Linked DNA regions of Homo sapiens: region 1 is linked to region 2. The links come from fine-mapping of genetic effects on gene expression. Tissue or cell type: whole blood. Region 2 holds a variant in brackets; the other region holds the start of a gene. All regions are shown on one strand. Distances are between the middles of the regions.

What was found. PIP is the estimated chance that this variant, and not a neighbour inherited with it, causes the effect.
Region 1: CARMIL1 starts here. The variant in region 2 is fine-mapped to the expression of CARMIL1 in whole blood (INTERVAL, PIP above 0.99).

What each region holds. Positions count from the first base shown.
Region 1 is chr6:25,278,084-25,280,702 of GRCh38, reverse strand. CARMIL1 (capping protein regulator and myosin 1 linker 1) reads right to left here and starts at 1,329. Exons shown (of 37, transcript NM_017640.6): 1 at 868-1,329. The coding sequence starts at 907. RefSeq lists a silencer at 1,132-1,601.
Region 2 is chr6:25,407,067-25,409,566 of GRCh38, reverse strand. The region is part of intron 2 of CARMIL1 (capping protein regulator and myosin 1 linker 1); the gene reads right to left. All of the region lies in intron 1 of LOC124901281 (a long non-coding RNA gene), which reads left to right. Among named protein-coding and RNA genes, the nearest start is that of CARMIL1, 130 kb to the right of the region's middle. The variant TTA/A (reference allele first, on the strand shown) is at 1,273.

The DNA.
Region 1 (2,619 bases), 130 kb after region 2:
TTTTCAGAACACTCTCCCATCCTATTTCAGCTCTGCCATTTTAACCCTCCAGATAATTAAGTTAAACCCCAAGACTTAACCAGCCCCGCCCCCACCACCACCAAAAAAAAAAAAACCTCAAGGTACTCAAACAATGGGTCACCTTGCACAGCGTAACACACACGGGTTCCCTAAGAGATCCCCTATAGGGAGAATCGGTAGGTTAATCATTATTAAAATAAGGCTTTTATCATTAACCCTCTATTTCCTGGCCTGAGTCTGCGTCAGCCCTGTAACCCTTTCGCTCCCAGCTGGCTACACCAAGCCACACCTTGCCAAGCCCAGTCATTTTACCAGACTAGCGCCCACTCCCCCAAGTCTGCGTGTCAGAAGATCACCTCCCGCGGGGCATTTTCAGGAAAGCGCCTGACACGTGCCGGAGACGACCTACTGTGCGCTCGCCACCTGTCCTTCCAATAGGCTTTCCCGGACTTTCCCGAGTTTGGGGCAGTGGGCTGGGAGCTGTAAAGGGCTCCCCTCGCTTGCAGAACTCCCAAGTCTAAGATGGCCCGCCCCCTTCTTTCGCCAACCTGGATCCCCGCTTCCGGGCAAGAGGAGGTGCCCAGGGCTCACAGTCGAGACCCTCCTCCCACCCACCTCCCGAGGACTCCCGATTCCTCCCCGAAGCCTTCCCTCTCTGCACTTGGCTCTACAGGCGGTCGGATGGGAACAAACTTCCCGGCACCCCCAGTGACCCTGCCCAACACCACTCTGCCCTAAGGGGCGCCAAGACTTCTCGAGACCTGCGGGAAAGCAGAGGTGGGAAGGGAGAGAGAGGTGAGGAGTACGCAGAGGAAGGTGGAAAACCAACAACCGCGTGAATCTTACCTATCAACTCCCTGGGAACGTCAGAGCTCTCCTCGGTCATGGTTGCCCTGTAGGTGTGGGGGTTATTGCAGGTCCAACTCTGATTTATGGCCCCCTGCCCTTCCCCGAACTCCTCAATTTTTTTAGAGAGGCAGATGCAGCTTGCAAATGGAAGTGGGCAAGAAAAGGGGGGGCGGAGACAGAATTTTGCCGCGCGCCCCCCGCCCCACCAAAAAAAAAAAAAAGAGTTGCAAATGCGAGGCGGATTTGCTGCTGCTGCTACATGACGCCTCCTCGCAGTTCCCGGCGGCTGAATAAGGAGCGGACCGGATTACAAGCGGGCGCGGGGCGCGGGGCGGCTGTGGCGCCTGCTCCTCCTCCCGGCTCGCTGGTCCCCGGCGGGGCTTGGGCCGGCGTAGCTCCCGCCCAGCCTCCGCGCCGCACCTACAGCCCTAGGTGAAAGCGGAAGGCGTGGGAGAGGGCGGGGAGAGCGGCGCGGGGCGGGGGGAGTAGGTTTTCCTCGCGCTCCTGCCGGGCTCCGGCTGGGCGGGGGCAGCTCCGGCCCTCCTCCTTCTCCTCCTTCTCCTTCTCCTCTTCCTCCTGCGTTTCCTCCTCACCTCGCGAGAGCCGGCCTCCGCACCGGTGCGAGGCCGGCCTCCGGTGCCCGAGCGCTGGGTCCCCGGCGTAGGTCGCACCCCCAGGAGAGACGCTGTGCGGTGCTGCGGTGGCGGCGGCGGGCACCGCGCCCCTCCTCGCAGCCTCCCTCCCAAACCGCAAAAGCCCTGCGTCTGGAGAGGGGGCGAGCGGGCTCGCGAGAGAGCCCGGGAGCCATCTGCTGGCTGCGAGGGAGGAGAGCCGGGTGAGCCGGGCTTTCCATTTCCTTGTCCCCACTCCGGGCGGGCCAGGGGACCCAGAAGACGGGAGACGGCAGATTCTGCAGACCCGTCTACACGGAAGCTGGTTCTTTTTGGGACCCTCTTACGCACTTTTTCTTTTTCAACCCTCCCGGTGACATGTCACTTCATCATCGCTATTCTTCATTTCTGATGAGCTAGACGAAACCTGTGAACACTAATCATACCGTGAGAAGACACTTGTGTGTGTGCGTTCAGCTGGTGCTCTGCAGCCGCAGTTCGCTATCTCAGACATTCCCGTTGAGAGCGCCTTGGAAAATGCCTTTCACTCGGAAAAGTCTCTTTTATCCTCGGGGCATATTCAGGAAGCTGAGCTTTAATCACTGGAGCCTATGTAAGCCTGCGGATAGGTCTGATCCTACCTGGGCCCAAACTCCCTATGACTTCCCTGAGCTCCATCCCCAGAGGTTCAACTTCAGGGCCAAGAATACTTTGTGCCTCAATCGCTGCTTTTTAGCCTAGGGCTGGGAATGTCCCAGACTGTCTAATCAGGTTCTGCTTTTAAAGGACAGAAAAGGAGGAAAGGAAAGGGAATCCATGCACTTGGCAATCTAATTTTAAACACTGCTGTTGACCTTGGACCCCTTAGAATCATCTTCAGCCCCACAGCCAGGCCTTACCACTAAGGATTTGCCAACCTGGCCCCTTCCCACCCTCCTTAACCTCTCCCACTCCCTTCTCTATTACAACCAGACTCACTGTTTGCTTCCTCCTTCCTCTTAAGGTTATCTGATTCTTATCTATGTTTTCAAACCCATCCCAATGGTCTACCTTCTTTGTGAATATTTTCCAGGGATTTTCAGATTACTGTGATCCCTAAGCCTCTACAATATGTATTGCCTGAAACACTTTTCTAAAC
Region 2 (2,500 bases):
GAACATGAGCTTTAGAGTCAGACACACTTCAGGCGAAATCTCAGCTTTGCCATTTTGTGGACTGAGAGGTATTAGGCATGTTGCTTGAAATCTCCAGGCCTCAGCTTTTTCACTTCTAAATTGGAGACAATCTGTATCCTAGTTTAAGTACTAGAGATAACCTATCAAGTGCTGAGCATACAGTAGATACTAATATAAAAGGAGCCATAATAATTGTCCTCAAACTTATAGAATATAGCTCTGAAAATGATCCACAGGGACAAAGGTGTGAGACCTACAGAGACAGTGTGCAAACTTGCTAGTTAGAAACAGAGCTGAGCCCAGAAGCCCAGTCTCCTGGTCTCAGCCTTATTCGTAACACATCATCTTCAGCATGTGGCTTGAGTCAGAGCAAGGGGGAGAATACTCCCATGGTAACTATAACCTATTTAAGAATTAGAAGAGAATTTCCATTTCTATATGGTGATGGGATAAACTTTGATATAAAGGAAGAATGGGCTTTGAATCCAGACCAATTTAGATCAAATTACCAACTCCTCCATTTATCAACTACCTAACCTCCTAAATTTTATTTTTCTTACCTGTAGAATCAGTATGAAATAGACTCTGTTGGACAGTTGTGGGGATTAAAGGGGTAACATGTAAAAAGCCTACAAGTACTGTGCCTAGCACTCTCCTAGATATGCTGAACTTCATTCATAGGTGAGGCTAATACCTGGCTCAAAATCTTTTTTTTTTTTTTTCTATTTTATGTAGAGACAGGGTCTCACTACATTGCCCAGGCCGGTCTTAACTCCTGGGATCAAATGATCCTCCCACCTCACACTTTCTATACAGCCCCAACTTCTCTCATCAGGGGACAATACAGCATCCAATCATGCAGAGCACTAGGCTTTGAAACTGTACCACCCCAGTTTGAATTCTGGTCCCACCACTTACAAGCACGAATGATTTTGAGAAAGACCTCTGTGTGCCTTACTTTCCTCATCTGTAAAATATGGGATCACAATATATACCTCACTGGAGGTTGTCATAAGGATTAAAGAAGGTAATACACACAAGGTGCTTAGAAAAGTGTTGGCGATAGTCAGTGTAAATCATTGCATCCCTAAAGATATGATGATCAGGAAGCCTTTGAATTCTTCGGCCTTCTTGTTCACTCTGTCATATCCTGGGCCATGTTAGTTACTGCTTGAGATTATACCATGTCAAACGATTTCTAATTCAGGCATCCCACTCTCTGCCCGAAATCTTTTTTTTTTTTTTTTTTTT[TTA/A]TTTTAAGAGACAGGCTTTTACTGTCACCCGGGCTGGAGTGCAGTGGTGCAATCTCGGCTCACTGCAGCCTTGACCTCCCAGGCTCAGGTGATCCTCCTGCCTCAGCTTTTCAAGTAGCTACTACAGGCACAAGCCACCACACCCAGGTAATTTTTAAACTTTTTGTAGAGATGACGTCTATGTTGCCCAGGCTGGTCTCAAACTCCTCAGCTCAAGTGATCCTCCCACCTGGGCCTCACAAAGTGTTTGGATTATAGTCATGCACCACCACACCTGGCCCTCACAGTGTGATCCACGGGCCAGAGAGGCTGGCGTGACAGGAACTTGTTAGAAATGCAGAATCTGAGGCCTCAGCCCAGACCTGCTGAATCAGAATCTGCGTTTTTACTAAAATCCCCAGGTGATTCACATTAGCATTACAGTTGGAGAAGCACTCATAGCTAGTTCCCTTATTCAGGTACTACCACTACCCTGTTTATTGCCCCCTGACACTGCCAGGTCATTCTCCATCAGCACTAACCTATCTTCATCCAACTGAACCTCCACTGAAATCATTCCTCCATGTGTTAATGTCCTTAGCCTTCGTGTTCCTTGTCCTTTTATTACTCCCACAGAGTAAAACTTCAATCTTGGCTGAACTTACCTAGCCGCCTATTCCATGCTTGCAGTGGTAGCTGCCAAGCACAGCTGGAGAACTGATCTTACCCAGCAACCTGATTCCGTTCCCTTCATCTGGGAAGATGACTTTCCCTCCTACTTCACAGAGAAAACAGAAATTATCAGAATGGTATCACTTACCATTCCACTCCAAACCTCCACACCTGCCTGCATCTGCAGCTGTACCCACCCCCTCCTCTTCCTCTCCTTCTGAAGTGCTGGAGATAAATGCCCGTCCCTTCGTGTGGGCTCTGGGTTACATCCCACCTGTCTTTGCAGGAACCTTAAGCAACTAAATATCCTTTCTCTTCCATCTCTAAATATCCAAACATAGAGATGTTTAGACCTAGAGCTATATGCCTGGATCCTACACACCTCTTGCAGGTCCCCTCTAACTGTCTCTACCCTTTGAGCCCAACTTCTCAAAAAAGGTACCCATACTCAGTGTCTTCATATTCCTGCCTCCAATTCACTCATCTAGTGTTCAAAATTGGCTTCTGTCCCCACAACTCCACTTAAATTTCTCCTGCTTGAGGTGCCAATCTTGATTGCTAAATCCAACCTCACG